Regions from separate parts of the Homo sapiens genome. Here region 2 is linked to region 1. Evidence: fine-mapped expression QTL. A gene starts in region 1. The other region holds a variant in brackets. All regions are shown on one strand. Distances are from middle to middle. Region 1 holds the start of DOCK9 (dedicator of cytokinesis 9). Region 2 holds the start of DOCK9-DT (DOCK9 divergent transcript).

Evidence for each region.
Region 2: its variant is fine-mapped to the expression of DOCK9 in fibroblasts (GTEx, PIP 0.98).

The regions. Positions count from the first base shown.
Region 1 is chr13:98,973,196-98,981,195 of GRCh38, reverse strand. DOCK9 (dedicator of cytokinesis 9) reads left to right here and starts at 3,132. Exons shown (of 53, transcript NM_001366683.2): 1 at 3,132-3,412. The coding sequence starts at 3,287.
Region 2 is chr13:99,081,438-99,091,449 of GRCh38, reverse strand. It overlaps DOCK9-DT (DOCK9 divergent transcript), which reads right to left and starts at 4,727. Exons shown (of 1, transcript NR_047482.1): 1 at 2,825-4,727. It also overlaps a transcript of DOCK9 not described here. RefSeq lists enhancers at 3,042-3,601, 4,164-4,725 and silencers at 3,606-3,835, 4,416-4,475, 4,566-4,875, 4,916-5,395. The variant C/T (reference allele first, on the strand shown) is at 5,150.

The DNA of each region.
Region 1 (8,000 bases):
AGTCCCAGCTACTTGGGAGGCTGAGATGGGAGGATTGCATGAGCCCAGGAGGTGGAGGTTGCAGTAAGCTGAGATTGCACCACTGCACTCCAGTCTGGGCAGCAGAGCCAAACCCTGCCTTGAAAAAAAAAAAACAAAAAACAAATTACTTGCTTTACAACTTGATATATTTTCTCCTTTTGATGTTATATATTATGGAACTGATCATGTTTTCCTTTTTGTCCTGGCTACTTGGAAACTCAGAGCAAATTAAAAGTGTTTTCCTTGATCATAAAACAAAAATATAGTCATTGCTAACCATTTTGAAAAATATAGAAAAACTTCAAGAAGAAGGCCTGGCTCATGACATGAACATGTGGGGTTCAAAATGAATATTTGAAGGCAGCTGTCATAATCAAGCCACAGAGAGGGAAGAATGGTTGATGCTAAGTTGCTGAAGCGCTTTGTAATGTGTGATAGCAACACGGTTGGTGGAATTGTCATTTTAGATCACACAGCAAAAGCCCTGAGTTTAAGACTAAAATTAATTTCTTCAGGTTGGAATGAGAACAGCAACAATACAGTAGTTACCATCAAATGAATACCTGCTTTGCACAAGGCACTTAAAGGCTAAAGGCCATCTAAAGACCTTTTTACCTCTTCACTTCCATGATAGGGTTAAAGCCAGATGCTGCTGTCTTTAATTGCTGACTGGTGATTGGTATTGTGCCTTTTAGCAGTTTGAACATAGTATCATGGTTAAGCGTGTGTACACTGGATCCATATTGCCCCTGCTCTCTGTATAACGTTCTGCAAGTATTTAACGTCTCTGGGCATCAGTTTCCTCATCTGTCAAATGAGGATAACAGTATTACATAGAGTTATGAAGATTAAATAAACAATCTTTGTAGGGCTTGAACAGGCATGGGCCATAGCCAGCACTTACAGTGTTTGTCAAATAAATATCTTAAAGTTCATTTCTCATTCCTTACAGAATACCAGGGTATTTTGACCCAACAAATAGGGTAGGCTGAACACAGTGGCTCACACCTCTAGTTCCTGCTACTTGAGGGGCTTAGGCAGGAAGATCCTTGACTCCAGGAGGTCAAGACTGCAGTGAGCCATGATCGAGCCCCTGCACTCAGCCTGGACTACAGAGCAAGACCCTGTCTCAAACAACAACAATAACAAATAGAATAGCATTTCTCTTATTAATGCCCAGACATTCTGATGGCTTAATGGCGATGGGGATTTGAGGAAGAACTGGACTATTTAGAACTTCCTGAACCATCTCAAAAAGGTTTCTGAGTTGTTGGTTGGGCTGTCCTTTACTAAGGCTCAGTTAGTCTGTTTTGTGCTTGTGGCTTCATCCTTTCTTTGATTTGTAGGACATTCCTAAGTTTTTACTTTACTATAATTTCGACTCTATAGGTAAGTGAGAGTTTTTTCTTACTGGGTTTTTTCTGTTGTAACTTTACAAAGAAAGATTTTTAAAATTTATAGATAATATTATTTTGGAACACAGATTTGGTAGGGGGACTTCTATTAACCCTGAAAGACTACCCAAGGTTGAGAGATTGGGTAGTTTAAAAAAAATTATAGAAGCCATTAATTTATTTGATGGACTCATTGATCCTTTGAGATCGTTACATAATTGATATTCACACTCAGAAGGGTTCCTGGTGTTCAAGTGGCAGAGACCCAGCTTCAGCTTCACTCTTGAAGTAGAGCAGCTGCAGCAGGTGCTAGGAGAGGGAGGCGGCTGTGCGAGGACTGGGTGGCATCTCAGTTCTCCCCACTGCCTCCTCTGAGCCCTCCTGGCTGCGTTCCTTTGTCTGGAAAGTGGGAGACTTTTACCTGTGACTTGTATAATAGTTTATGTTATTTCCCTGGGTAGAGTTCCTCTGGCACCTATTGTTGCTACATGATAACTACTCTCGTTGTTGACTGACTGAATACTGCTGCTGCTGCTGCCGCCGCTGCTGCTACTACTACTACTACTACTACTACTACTACTACTACTACTACTACTACTATTGCTGCTGCTACTGCTGTTACTGCTACTGCTACGGCTGCTGCTGCTGCTGCTGCTTGTTGTCTACTGTTACTAAATCTTCCCTGATGTCCAGGAAATACTCAGAGTAACTAGGAAAAGCTCTGCGGTATCCATGAAGTACAGAGTAATATTTGATCCCCCCTTTAATGTTCATTTCTACATAACTTTTAGACAAATCCCTTAATACCTCTGTTTTAATTTTTCCCAAGAGGTAAAAAAGACTCCACTGTTAAATGTGAGGAAATAATAAAAATACAGACTTTTAGGAACACATATTTTGGGTGCTACTAAACCACCATTGAACCGTAGGTTGGTGATCCAGCTATTTTCCCGTGCTTTTGTGCATCTCTCTCTTAATTTTATTAATTTGTCATTTATGATGTCTGCTCTTCTTGCCTTCCCAGCTAGATGTGAAGTTCTTTGAAGGGAGAGATACTCTACCTTATACTTTTAGTATGATCCTCTCAGCACCTAGTACTGGGGGTACCTTCTGATACCCACACATCTGGACTTAAAGTAATATTCTGTTTAATAAATGCATTTACTATGATATGTGGTATCCCATGAAAATGTTTTGATGACCTCATCTTTCTGGCATCAAATAGTACATAAATTAAGTGTTTCATGCTGTGGTCTGTCATGCGGGGTGAAACTCATTTCCTCCACCTGTATCCACGAGGTGCAGGCTATGGGAACATACTTGCTGGTAGCTCTTCCCTGCTTTAATCATCAGCCAGGCATTTGGTTTTTAACCATAACACAAATGAAAGCATTCCAAAACTGGAAGAATTTTAGAACAAGCAGACAACCTTGCTGTCTCTTAAGCTCCACGAGCTTCAGATTTAAGGTAATTATGAAGGAGTCTAACTGTGACTGGTTTTCTTTTAAACACTGCAGTATTTTGATTCCGATTGATTTGGCCCACGCTGTGTGGAACAGACACAATAAAGCCGGTCTTTATCAGAGAGGCAGTACACTGTGTATTGTTCAGCTTGGAGTTTGTTTTCCTTTGGCCAGCAAGTAGGAGCCTCCCCTTTTGCATGGAGTAGTAACACCCCTGGAGGCTGGCCTTTGCTGTCATGCCTTCCCACCCCACAGGCTCTGCAGACCCAGCCAGCGGGGCTGACCACTTGTGCCTGGGAAGCCAGTTTCCTTTCCTTCCTTGGACCACTGGCATGCCTGTGCCTTGCACGGCCAGGGACTCGCAGCTGTTCCAGTTGCAGACTTTCTGACTTGCGTTTTCAGCCGAGAATGCAGGCTGATAAATGCAGGACAAGTAGTAGAAGTGTCAAAAAGGAACTGGTGATTGAGTCCCCCCTGCAATACAAGGATGCAGCTCAGGGCGAAGTGGAAGCAGAGAGCCCGGGCCCTGTGCCGGTAAGAGGGTCTCGTACAAAGTGTTGCTGTGTCTACCCAATGCTGGGTTCTTATTGTGCGTGTGGACGGGGTTGACGCCTGTTGCCTGTCTTTGATTTCAAAACTTGCTCTGCTTGTCCCTTGTGAACTCCACTCTTTCCCTGTAATATGACTTCGATTCCCCTTTGATTCTTCTTTGTGAAGAAAGAAATGTTGACATTTTGTGGGTGAATATGGTTTCTGGGAGGTTTCTTTGTATGGGACAATTATGTATTGTTCACAATTATGTCCCACCTAGCTGCAGTGTTTGCAAATGTAAACCCAGGAAGCATATTTTAATTGCAACTATAGGGTTGAAAAAAGATGTGCTTTGCAAAATTAAAACCTTTTCTACGTTATTTATGCTATTGAGAAAATGAGGCAGGTCCCATTGGGGGTTTTAAGGAACATAACTGTTGGAAATATTACATAGTTTAGAAAGGATAAAATCACATATGTTCTTCTCACTCATTTTACCAGGAGGTTTGCCTTGAATAAAGTAGGGAAGAACCTAAACTGTGAACCAGCTGATAGAAACGTTTCTGTTCTTAACATCAGCTAAACTCTCAGCATTTGTCTAAAGCCAAGTGCTTTGGTGGACTTTGGAGGGGAGGAATGTGAAAAATGGTTGTGTTGTTATCATCAGTGAGTAGGTTGTGCTTCTCTCGGAATTTCTTCAGTACAATAAAGGCACATAATTTTTTAAGCAAGCTGCACAAAACCACCAACATGCCCTGCAGAGGGGGGACAATTGAGCCTTTCAAATTATCTGCTAAAGAGATTGTTAAACTGATATGTAGTGATTTTATTTAGTGATTTTTTTTTTTCTTTAACGTGGAGGTTCAGTTGATGTTACCATGAAGTGTTTGCTTACTAATTTACTTAATTTTCAATTAATGTCTAAGAATCTGAACTTAAACTTTCCTATAACAGATTTGATTTGAACTGAGTTGCTTTCTTTGTGACTCGTGAGACTGCCCTATATTTTATTGCCTTCAAAACTATATTGCTAACCCTGAACTGAAAAGTTAGTAAAATATCATGGTCTTTTTCACTGCAGATTTTCATCTTAGAGATTTAGGTTTCTTTTCTTCACCCTCTGCTACATTGTTTAGAAATGTAATTCATTGTTCTGGATTCCTTGCTGCCAATATAATAGCCCACTTCTCTGTTGGGTTGCTCACAGGCTGTATGGATTTCACTGCTTAAAGCAGCTGATGTAACTTAGGATTTCTTGGAGGAAGTTGTGTGGTTTAGGTTCCCTTGTGAATATTCTTAAAAATCTTCTGTCAGTGATTCTCCAGCTGTGTAGAAATATTTGTCTACAGGACTGAATACACTGTAGAAAGATGCTATGCAATTTTTTTTTTTTAAGCACACAAGTGACTTCTTAAACTTACTTCTCTTTCTAGTGCTCAAGAAATTTGCCATTTATGTCCTAGCTATTTGTTTAGGTAAATCTCACTCCAGGCAGTTCCTCTGGGGGTCTTTTTCCACTGCAATGGATAAAGCTGTGCTGGCTACAGCTGCATTTGGTGGGAACACTTGTCAGGGCCCAGCAGCTTGTGGCAGTGTGATCTCAGCTCTGCGCACCTGCAGAGAGGGGTGAGGGAGTGAGGAAGCCAACAGTGATACCAGAAGTTTTTTCTTATCGGGCAGTGTTTCTCTTCTTCCAGCAGGGTAAACAAGATAAGAAGAGCTAATGTCAGATCAGGGAAGCAAGGATATTTCAGCAGGGCCTTTGCCGAGGGCAGATCTCTTACCTGTGGCTGTTGCTGCCCACTGGCAAACAAGAGTTCAACAGACTGCTGGAAAGGCAACTTGTTTCTCAAGATGATTTTTCAGAAGGAGGCAGACACCATTGTGCAACCTGTTTGTGGCAGTACTATTCATTGTTCGAATGTCAGTGGCCCACGGGCTTGGTAAGAATCCCCAAGACTGTCTATCATTTGAATGCATTATACCTAGAGACGTTTAAATGTAGGTAACATGCTTTATTCAGGAGGTAGCATTTTGAAATAAAGTTTTGCTGTTTTTAGTTATGTACAGAAACAGTCCTTGGGGAAAAATATTACATAAATTAAAACGGATAAAATTAATTAATGCGTGTAGTATAGAAGTAGGAAAAACAAGAAATGCAAATAGTGTAGCAGTAGGAAAGACAGTGTCCTTGTTTTTACTCTCCAGTGGTGACCATTATTAATAATTCAGTGTATATACTTCCAGACTTTCTCCTGTGCCTAGAACAGTATAACTTGTGTGTGTGTGTGTGTGTGTGTGTGTGTGTGTGTGTATGTGTTTAGAGAATATACTATTATGGTAGATTTCTGGATTGATTTTCTCCCAGAACACGTCAGTAACATCTTTTGTCACCATATGTGGATTTATGCCTTTTTTTTTTTTTGAGACAAAGTCTTACTCTGTCATCCAGGTTGCAGTGCAGTGGTACGATCTCGGCCCACTGCAACCTCCGTCTCCTGGGTTCAAGCCTCCCGAGTAGCTAAGATTATAGGTGCCCGCCACCATGCCCAGCTAATTTTTGTATTTTTAGTAGGGACAGGGTTTCATCATGTTGGTCAGGCCAGTCTTGAACTCCTGACCTCAGGAGATCCGCCCGCCTCGGCTTCCCAAAGTGTGATTACAGGCGTGAGCCACTGCACCTGGCCTATGCCATTATTTTAATGGCTGCATATTATCTCATTTTAGGTCTGTACTATAATTGGATCGTTATTTAATTTGTTTCTAATTGTTTGCATTAGTAATGAGGCTACCATAAATGTACCTGTAAGTAGATCTTAAAGCATGTAGGCAAGCCAGTATTTGTTCTAGAAACTTTCTATCATAAGTTCCCTCCTGCCCTTATGATTGGTGGTAATGTTTTTTCTCCTCTGCCAGGGCCGCTTTGAAGGTTTCCCTTAGCAGTGGCTGCTTGTTCAGTGTTAGGGAAAGTTAGTATTTCTTTTTCTTTCTTTTTTTGGAGGTGGAGTTGTTCTTTTTTTTTTTTTTTTTTTTTTTTTGAGACAGAGTTGCTCTTGTTGCCCAGGCTGGAGTACAATGGCATGATCTCGGCTCACTGTAACCTCCGCCTCCTGAGTTCAAGCGATTCTCCTGTCTCAGCCTCCTGCGTAGCTGTAATTACAGGCGCATGCCACCATGCCCGACTAATTTTTGTATTTTTAGTAGAGACGTGGTGTCATCATATTGGTCAGGCTGGTTTCGAACTCCTGACCCCAGGTGATCCACCTGCTTTGGCCTCCCAAAGTGCTGGGATTACAGGTGTGAGCCACTGCGACCGGCTAAAAGTTAGTGTTTCCAAGAGAATATGTGTTTGGACATTATAAAGTTTCAGAGGCTGCAAGGTTCAACTTACAGGCACCTACATGGGTGGGTCTTGTCCCCTGCATTGTGACAGTAAGTGAGGGAGGAAGCACATGGTGAAACTTCCCCATTTCTATCCAGGCTTACTGCCAACCCCACTGAGAAATGGCTTTGGGGGCTAGAAATCACTACCAGGGGAACAGGCAGGATATTCTTGATGTCTGCATGTTAGTTTCCCTGCTCACATTTGAATACCTATTTTTACCCCCTACCCGCCACCCCCCTTCAAAACTCTAACGTAATTCCTGGAAACAATTTATTCTAATTGTTACTGCTCAACAGTTTAGAGGAAAAAGGTGTGGCTTCAAAGTGCCAAAAAAGGCTGGGTTATATGCCATTTATGCAGCCCTTTCATTGGGTTCCTTTTGTGAGGCTGGTAGGGACTGCAGCACAGGTCTTATTTTGGGAATTTTTAAGGTTGAAGGATGTGAAGATTGAGAAGAGCTGAATTTTCCTATTAGGTGTACTCATAAGGTATTTTTTGAAAAGGATCAGCGGGCACTGTGGCTCAAGTCTGTAATCCCAGCAGTTTAGGAGGCCAAGGTGGGCATTGCTTGATCTCAGGAGTTCAAAACCAGTTTGGGCAACATGGCGAAACTCCGTCTCTACAAAAAATACAAAAATTAGCCAGACGAGGTGGCATGCACCTATAGTCCCAGCTTCTCGAGAGGCTGAGGTGGGAGGATTGCTTGAGCCTGGGAGAGTTGAGGCTGCAGTGAGCAGAGATCACGCCACTGGACTCCAGGCTGGGTGACAGAGTAAGACCTTGTCTCAAAGAAAATAAAAGTTTCTTTTCAGAGACACCTTTTGGGTGGCTCATATTTTCCTGGGATCCTCAAGTGTTAAAAGCAGAATTTTAGTTCTTATTTTAATGTTTGAATGACCACGTGATTACTCTAGCTAAATAACTCTGTGAGAAGGCAGTGCGAGTACTTGATGTAGAAAGTAGTAGTAGGACTTGGCTTCTGGTTGGACACACCAGTACCTTATCTGGGAACTCTTCTGTCTCTCAGACAGAGGAGGAATGAGACTAGAAAATCTTTCCTATCCCTGAAGTTCTGTTTGCTCTAGAAATAGCAGACTAAGTGAGGTATAAGCTTATGGGCAATGATCATGTTGTTAATTTTCAATTAGACTTTAGGTGACTGTGATTGAGTTAATTAAATTATGCTTAGACAATAGCCTTTCTGCC
Region 2 (10,012 bases), 110 kb before region 1:
TTAGATTAATTGTAATACCTTTCCCAGATGCTCTGTCTTGAAGAGATGTGTTTTCTACTTATGTTACCTAGCGGAATAAACAAGAGCCTACTTCTAAGCATGAGTTGATTAATTTCAAAAAACAAATTTGTAAAAAAAAAAAAAGTTTTTAGGTTGGTGCAAAAGTAATTGCAGTTTTTGCCACTGAAATAAAAGATGCAATTACTTTTGCACCAACCTAATAAATGAAGTATAAAGGTAGTGAATGTTCATTAAAAAAATTCAGTCAGGCCGGGCACGGTGGCTTACACCTATAATCCCAGAACTTTGGGAGGTCAAGGTAGGAGGATCACTTGAGCTCAGAAGTTTGATACCAGCCTGGGCAACATAGTGAGACCCTGTATCAACAAATAGTAAAAAAAATTAGGTGGGCGTGGTGGCATGCACCTGTCCTCTGAGCTACTTGGCAGGGTGAGGTGGGAGGATTGCTTGAGCCCAGGAGTTCAAGGCTGCAGCGAGCTATGATGGCACCACTGCTCTCCTTCCTGGACAACAGAGCAATAATCTGTCTCAAAATAAATAAATAAATAAAATTCAATCAGTGCAAGGATAAAATAAAGAACGAAAGTCCCCTTTCACACTTCCCTGTGACAGTGCACAGGAGTGCCTCCTTTTTATGGGTCACTTGTTATTTTTGCTAAAAACAGATATACTCTTTCAAGATATATCCAGAAAAGATTTTAAACTAATTATATGTTATTAAGACACATACAAATCCTAAAGCAAACTTAACAAGGAAATGATGTAGTAAGAGGTTATCATTAAACATGAGTAATGCTTGAATTATAAATTTGGGTGTAGTACAGTCATTTACATGCAAATTTCAGAACTGGCTGCAATTATATTTCATCTCCACTACCTACTAGTATAATTTTCAACAGAAAGAAAAGCTTTCTTCCTATAGTTTGGAAAAACAAAGATGAGGTTACTCCATCAAGCTAATGTAGGTGGATGTATCTTCTACCGTACCTGAGACACCATCCACCCAGTCCAGCCAGAGGTCAGCCTCATCCCAGGTAGCCAGGTAGCACCCTCTTTTGGGCTGATGCTCTGCCCCTCTGTAGGTATGACTGCTCTCCAGGAAATAGTGATGCCAAAAGAATTCACACAATTCCAGGCCCACTCTGGTGGAAATTTTAAAAATAGCCTTTGGCCAGCATGTTGGTTTCCCAGGACTGCTGTAAAAGTTCCACAAACTTAAAACAACAGAATTTCTTCTGTCACTGTTCTAGAGGCTAGAATTCTGAAGTCAAGGTGTCAGCAGGCCATGCTCCCTCTGATGACTTTAGGGAAGAATCCTTCCTTGCCTCTTCCAGTTTCTGGTGGTTCCCAGTGATCCTTGCTGTTCTGTGGCTTGCAGGTGTGCAGTATTCTCCTTCCTACCTTTGTTGTCACATAGTATTTTTCCTTTGTGTATGTATTTGTGTCTCTTCTTATAAAGACACCATTCAGGCTGGGCGTGGTGGCTCACGCCTGTAATCCCAGCACCTTGGGAGGCTGAGATGGGCGGATCACCTGAGGTCAGGAGTTCGACCTGACCTCAGCCTGGCCAACATGGCAAAACCCCTTCTCTACTAAAAATACAAAAAATTAGCCAGGTGTGGTGACAGGTGCCTGTAATCCCAGCCTCCTGGGAGGCAGAGGCTGCAGTGAGCTGAGACTGCACCACAGCACTCCAGCCTGGGCAACAGAGTGAGGCTCTGTCAAAACAAACAAACAAACAAACAAACAAACAACCATTCATACTGAATTAGGGCCCACCTATTCCAGTAGGACCTCACCTTAAGTTGGTTACATGTGCAAAGACCTATTTCCAATAAGGCCACATTCACAGGTACTGGGTTTGGAACTTCAATATATCTTTTGGGGGACTACAATTCAACCCAGAACAGTAGGGACCAAGTTTCTGCTGAAACTTTAACACTAGGAATGTCCCATTTGTTATCAACAGCACTTCACCAGGAAGAAGAGGCTCCACTCTGGGTTGCTGGGTCCATCTTCCTGGGCTTAGTTCACGTTTCCATGCCGCCTTGTCTGTCAGAACCTGTGCTTGGTTAGACATTGCCAGTGACTACTGTTGGCACATTGTCTGTTGTTCTCTGCTTCCTAAATGAAAATCTGCCAATTCTAGAATATACTGAATCAGCAAGTAAGTACAGAATTTAGGAGTGGTAGAGATATGGATAAAATTGGTAGGTTTGGGGAATTCTTCACTTTCCAGATATACATATATTTAAATAAAATTTATGGTAGGTCATTGTCTTGGACTGAGCTCCTGAACTAGGCCCCAACAGACCAGACTAAAATGAAGCCACTGTGTTAGGTGCCACGTAACTAAACAGAGATTTTAAAAAACAGGAAAATCCCCAAAAGGGCCAGTTTTCCAAAAACCAGGAGATTCACAGCAACCAGTCAAACGGGGCCCAGTCAGCCTGAGCCAGCTAAGGCAGCCCCCTCTGCTTTAACCCATAAAGGAGAGTAACCTGAAGTTACCCGATGTGCTTTCGGCACTATGCTTTTCCCTTGTTCCTGCTTAAGTTACCTTAACAAAACCCAGCTGTTCTTCCATTCCCACAAGAGCTCCCGTCTATTTTGTAGTCAGAATGCTGCCTGGTTCATGCATTGCTAATAGAAGCCAATTAGATCTTTAAAACCATTTGTTGAAATTTTGTTCTTTAGACTACACACACACACACACACACACACACACACACACACTCTACTGTAATCATATAGCTCTTAAAAAAAGAAAAGAAAAAAGAATATAAAACCCTACAACCTTAGGTGCTTTTGTTGTTGTTTTTAATTTAAAAAGACAAAATTGTTCGCCTTGTATAGAAGTAGATACAGCTTAGAGAGCCAAGGTAACAAGAGGGGAAAAGTTTGTGTTGTCTGGTACTTTTGAGGGAGTCAGAAGCCTAAAGGGAGGCTCTAACTCATGATTCTCAGAAGACAACTGTTGTCAACAGTTCAAATGAGAACTGAACGGCCACACTCCTGCAGCTGAAAGGAGTCAATGCGAGCTGAGTTGCTCTCACCGAACAGAGTGCGTTCCCCGGGGAGGCAGGGAAAGGCCGGCTTGCACCTGCTCTGTCACCCAGCTCCACTCTTAGGACAGAAGAGGTCTGGAAAATGTCTGGGCCATTCCCTCATTTCACGGAGGAGGAAATGGGTTAGTGTGTAATTGTTTTTATCATCACCCTTGTTTTATCTTTCAATCTGCCAGGCTCACTCAATGCTACATCCTGCAGTCCCCACCCACTGGAGAAACAATCCGATCCTGCAAGTAATTATTGAGTGCGGACGGCATACCTCACCTCCAGACCTGCCCATTAAACCCAGAACGGAGGTGTTTTGCTCTCTGCGCTAGATCGGTATTTTCCCCTACCACTTTAAGATTACGCTTCAGGCCAGTGTTAGGCTTTCTGGTGGGGTGGGACGCAACAGGCGGCCTCCTCCACCGCAGCGATGGCGGCTATGAAACCTCTGGGTATTTGGGCGGGAGGCGCGGCAGGTATTCTCCCAAAACTGGGTTTTCAAGACCACCACTCTCTGCGGAGGCCGACCCGGCAGGTAAGGAACTGTCCATCGGAAGGCAACGGGCGTGGCGTGAGCAGCCCGACCAATCAGCAGAGCCGCCGTTCAGTCAGGCTCCCCGCCCGGGGTACCCGCCCAGTCCCCAACCACTGAGCATGCGCCGCGGGCCTGGCGCAAATCCCCGCCTGGCGCGCCCTCTCCGCGGCCCTGTGAGGGTTAGGCTGCGCCGGGCTTCCTCAGAGAGACAGAAACGGAGCCGGGGCGGGAGCGGGCCCTTAGGGACAGGAAAGCGGTTAGGGTATTGGGGGGAAAGTCCCTCACAGGGTGGCTGTCGCTAGCGGCCGCCAGCTCTGCGTCACGGTGGGCTCGCAAGCCGGCGCATCGCAGTTTCCCTGGTACCCCGCCTGGCGGTCCGGCGCGGAGGGGCGGCAGACCGGCTAAATCGGCCCCAGTGAGGGCCGCCGTGTCACCTGAGCCCCTTCCAGGCCGTTGTCCTCAGGTTACAGGCGACATAACCGAGGCTCCGAAGTATTGCCCACGTCCAAGGTGACGCAGCTGGCCGTCCCGGCGGGCCGGAGTCTGGGAGTCTCCCACGCCTGGCCCGGCCCAACCGTCATCGTCCCGCCGCGAGCTCCGTGCCTCCGGGGACTGAACGGTGGGGAGGCCGAGGCGCCACACGAGCGCGCGGCGCCCCGCGCCAGGTTCCGAGCAGGGACGCTCCGTCCAGGTCCGCCTGGCCGGCCGCGGGTTCCGATCGGTGCCACATAAATAAAGGCTACTTTCCTGAGACCTCTGTCCCCGCAGAGGCCCCGGGCGCAGAGGGGGGGCGTGGTGCACCGAGCTCCGACCCTGCCGGTGACTTCGGGGTCCCCTCGAGCGCAGCCGGGCTCCCTGGGCAGGAAACCCTGCTCCGAAACCGCGCATCGTCCAGCCTCGGCTGTGCGCCCTCTTGGTGGCGTGCGCAGTCCCCTCCTCCGGTCTTCGGACGTGCGGCCCGGGGCGGAGGCGGCCCCGACCCCCCACCTTCCCCAGTGAGGGTCCCGCGCGGCACGCCGCCCCTGCCAGTCCGGCCGCCTAGCTCCAGCGCCGGGCCGCGCCGACCTGCCTGGCCCGCCGTCCCGCCGCGGCGGCCCCTCCTCCGCCGTCCGGGCGCCCCGCCCCGCCCGCGCCGCGCCGGACACCCCGCCCCGAGGAGGCGGCCCGGCGAGTGGTCGCCGAGGGAGGCTGGTGGCATGGGGGAGCCGCCGCCGCCACACGCACGGTCGCCCGGAGCGAGCCCGGGCGCTGCTGCGATCGCGGGGGGCCGCGGACGCCGAGGGGGGCGCCTTGGGGCGTGACACGGTGCAGAGGGCGCGGCCTGGGCTGCGGCGGCCGGACTCGCGGCGAGCAGCGGGGGGAGCAGGCGGCGGCGGCGCCGGGAGCGGCGGGCGGAGCGGGCCGGGCGCCGAGGGCGCACCTGGCGGCCGCGCGGCCGGGCCGGGCCGCGGGAGCAGGCGGAGGCGGAGGCGGCGGGGGCAGGAGGATGTCGCAGCCGCCGCTGCTCCCCGCCTCGGCGGAGACTCGGAAGTTCACC[C/T]GGGCGCTGAGTAAGCCGGGCACGGCGGCCGAGCTGCGGCAGAGCGTGTCTGAGGTGGTGCGCGGCTCCGTGCTCCTGGTGAGTGCGGGACGACCGCGGGCCGGGGGAGGATGGCGGGGGCGCAGGCAGCTGCGGGCCCCGGGCCGGGCGCCTCTTAGTCGGCAGGGCTGAGGCAGAGCGGCCGACCCTGCTGGGTCCGCGGAATCAAGAGGTGGGGCCGGCGGGAGGGAGTTGGACAGGGGAGAAGAGAAGGTCCTGGAGGGGCTGCAACTCCCAGACCCCTCCCCGCCACCCAAGATCCTGTCCCCATCGCTGTCCCCTTCCTCCTGGGAAATTTCCGCAGAGTGATGTCGCCCTGTCACTCTTTTCACCCCGCTCTCTCCCAATTTACCTGCTTTCTGTCAACTGGGAAATTACACTCTCCCCCCTCCCCCGCATCCCTCCCCCGTATCCCTCCCCCGGCCTCCCTCTCCTTCCATGTTTTGGAGGGGCGCAGGGGAATTGAGGTGGGGGCTTCCTCATCCAGTCTGCGCTCAGGGTGGGAGATGCCCCTGCTAACCCTTTGAGTTGGCTGAACTCCAGGAGGGAAGGACTTCGGCATCCTCTCCTGCGCCCCCCACCTCCAAGCCGGTATCCTGAAGTTTGGCCGCCTTTTAGGAAGGCTTGGGGGGCATGATGGGAACCCTCGCTAATTTAGTATTGGTGCAAATTCCTGTGACGTTTGGGGGTTCTAAGTAAGCAAAGCCATCAGCCCAAAACGAATCTTCCCGTGGCAGAACGTCTTTAGAGAATAGGCCTCTGGGTGTGAGGAAGATGAAGTTTTCGATTAACTTTTTCACAGCCAGCGCCGGTCCTGCTGTATTTGGAAACGCACTACAACCCGATTCACCTGGATGGTGCGGGAGTGGAGCGACGTTTGAGCAGGAGCGAGCTCTGCAGGGCAGCTGGAAACTTTTAGCAGCTCCTTGCGTTGCCGCCGGCATTTGTTTTCTTGAAACGGGCTTGTTTGTGGGTGGGTGTGACTTGTGTTTGTTGGAACAGTGCAAGAAGATGGGCCTTGGAAGTGGTTGTCTGGGCCCTGTGGGGGATTGTCGGGGCAGAGTGCCGGGCCCCTTAACACAGGGGCGGATGCATCATTTTGGTGGCAGATCGATGCCCTTCCTGGGCAGACACAGAATTGCGTGAATGACGTTTGTGGAGATTGGAGATGAAGCTTCGCTGATTTCTATATCCAGTTTGCTCAGTTTGAATTTTCTCTCGATTGCTAGCTCTGCCAACTCCAAATTTCTCCAACTCCAGTTTGATCCATAGTAAACAAGGATTTAATTTTTCTATTTTAGGGAAGTCGATTAGGTAAGGAGTAGAGCAGGAGTTGGGAATAGACCAGAACCTGGCCATCTCTTCCATAACCAGCTAACTTCTGTGTGGCTTCCTGCATCTTCCTGAGTTTTGCCAGTGCATGTTAAGGATAAAGCCTGCAACTTCTTTGGCATCTTTTCTGTTCTCACACAGAAGTTGGTTCCTTTATCTGGGGCCTGCCGTGGTCATCAGGGATTTGAGGCAGAAGAAGAGTAAATAAAGTGTACCAGTGTGCCATGATTTCCAAAGTGCTGCAGGTACTGGTTTAATAAGCCGTGTAGATGGAGCCCAGGAGTGCTGGTGCAGACACAACACTGCTGATGTGCAGTAGTCCCCGAATATCTGCCCTTCCCATCGGAGGATGGCCTACTAATGGTGACCTAGGAGTGTCCATTCCCACGTGTGACAGGCTGCCAACTGTGTTATCTCATGATACTTTAGTAGTACATCCGTTTTCCCTGGACACCCTTAAGCATGAAGAGCCAGATGCCCGGCTGTTGTCTTAACTCTTAGTCTCGTCTGTCTGTGGTCACTTGTCTGATGAAACCTGTGATGGAACAGATACAAAATGCAGGGAAGCAGGTGGGCCTGCTCTGGCATGTGAGGGCCCCTGGCTGAATGGGAAATAGGAAATGCATTGTGATGGTTCTGAATTGCAGAAGGAAGAATCTGGGAGGGCTTACAGATACTGAAAATTACCCACACACCTCATCCCCCCACCTCCTTCCTGGTACTCTGCCACTGCTTACTTCCTCTAGTGGCTCCAGTGTCTGCCAGGGAGCCACAGCAGGTGCACCTGCCACATAAGTTCTGGCCGGGCTTTGTTGTATGAAGGTCTAAGAGGTGAGGTAAGGTAACCCTGGACTTCTCAGGAGGCAGAGCAGCAACCACGCCAGGTTCAGAATCCCATGGTCTGTGCATCTGTCCTTAGATGGAAATAATTACTCTGTGTCTGATAACTTGGGTCAGCACTAATACAATGCCCACAACATAAATGCTCAATAAATATTCTTATCTAGCTAATAAAGCAGTTCTGCAGATGGATTTAAAAAAAATTAAACTATGTGTGGGTTTAGTAGCTCTTCCCACACTTCAAGTATTGATGAGTGGATGGTCATGAGATCAGAAACAACAAAATGAAATAGTTCAGTGGATGATAAAGGCTGCCATTAAAAACAAGCTTTAAAATGTAAACATAATGTGGGCTTATCCATTTTTCATTGTTCAATAGCTTCATTTTTCATGTGTTCAGGTTCATGGACTTTCATGAATGATTTTGTATTAATTTGTTTGAAAAGCTTGAAAATAAGCATACAAAAAGTAGAGAGAATAGTATAATGAACCTTCATATTTCATCATCCAGATTGAATAATTATTGAGATTTTGCCAAACCTGCTTCATATGTCTCTTCTTCCTATTATTTTTCATGTGTGATTGTGAGTCCCAGGCCTTATATCATTTCACCTCTATATAACTAGTATATGTTACTTAAAAATAGGGTCTATTCTTACATAACTGTGTCATAATAAAATTAACAACTTGTTAGTATGCTCTTCACATTTCCCAGATTATATTAAAAAATATTTGATTGTTAGTTTGTTCTAATAAGGACCTAAAAAAGCTTTGTAGGCCTTGTCAAACATGGTTAGCTCTTTCATGAGCCTTAGAATTCTTTTTTTTTTTTTCTGAGATGGAGTCTTGTTCTGTCACCCAGGCTGGAGTGCAGTGGCGTGATCTCGGCTCACTGCAACCTCCGCCTCCCAGATTCAGGTGATTCTCTGGCCTCAGCCTCCGGAGTAGCTGGGATTACAGGTGTGTTCTACCATGCCCAGCTGATTTTTGTGTTTTTAGTAGAGATGAGGTTTCATCATGTTGGCTAGGCTGGTCTCAAACTCCTGAGCTCAGGTGATCTGCCTGCCTCGGCCTCCCAAAGTGCTGGGATTACAGGCGTGAACCACCACACCCAGACAGAATTCTTTATAATGGAGAGAACCCTCCATGGGGTCAGGACTTCTGGGTTTTAATCTTAGAGGTTTAGTAGTTTAGAGCATGGGTTGTAAACCTGGTTTTATGCCTCACCAGCTGTACAATCTTAGGTATATAACTTAACCTTGTTGGGGCTCAGTTTCTTCATCTGTAGATTGGAGATAATAATTATGCTTTCCTTGTATTGTTGTTGGAAGGATTAATTGAGCTATGTGGGTGAAGCTCTTAGGCAGTGGCTGGCGTATATTCTACCAGCTACTTAAGTCCCCTTGGACTGTTGCTTAATGTCTCTGAACTTCAAGGTTCCTGCTCTGTTAAATAAGAGGCATACTCGGTTTTTCTAGAGTCCCTTATTCCACCAATGGGCTTCTATTTGAAGCTGTTTTTTTTTATTTATTTATTTATTTATTTATTTATTTATTATTATTATTTTTTTGAGATGGAGTCTTGCTCTTTTCACCCAGGCTGGAGTGCAGTGGCATGATCTTGGCTCACTGCAACCTCCGCTTCCCGGGTTCAAGTGGTTCTCCTGCCTCAGCCTCCTGAGTAGCTGAGATTATAGGCGCCCACCACCACACCCGGCTAATTTTTTGTATTTTTAGTAGAGACGGGGTTTTGCCAATTTGGCCAGGCTGGTTTTGAACTCCTCACCTCAGGTGATCCGCCCACCTCGGCCTCCCAAAGTGCTAGGATTACAGGGGTGAGCCACTGCGCCCGGCCTTATTTATTATTCTTTTAGAGACCATCTTAATCTGTCACCCAGGCTGGAGTGTAGTGGCATGATCATGGCTTGCTGCAGCCTTTGAACTCCCGGGTACAAGCAATCCTCTTACCTCAGCCTCCAGAGTAGCTGGGATTACAGGCATGCACCACCACGCCTAGCTAATTTTTGTATTTTTTTTTAGAGATGGGGTTTTGCCCTGTTGCCTAGGCTGGTCTTGAACTGGGCTCAAGCAATCCCAAACTCCTGGGATTACAGGTGCGAGCCAGCATACCCAGCCCTAAGCTGCTTTTATAAAAGTAGTGGAGGTGCTACTAGGAACATTTTTAACTGTAGGAAAAGTAATTTATAATGTTTGGTAATGAAGGAAGAATCCTCACAATTTCAGAATTAGCTTTCCATAATTTAGAATAGTCAGGAAGGTAGCATGTTCAAAACGTACGCGAACTCAGAAGAAAAGCTAGAAAGAATTCCCTGAGCAGGGTTGAGTTATGATTACTTTTAGAGCTCCTGAAAGGATTTTACCTCAGGTCTTTCAGATGTATTAAAGATGGCATCATAATGACCTAGATCTAAGAGGATGTATTAATACCACTCAAAGCCTACAAGTGTCCTTTCTCTGAAAGATTTGTGTGAATATCAGGTCACATCCCTTTGCATGGGCATGCTGACTGTCCTGCACTTGGGTATTAATATACAAGTCTTCTGGCTGCCCGGCTTCCTTACTGATCTTATCTCACTATGTTCAACTTCAAACTCTTCTTCGATGTCAAGCACTTGCCAGTGATGCCACTCCT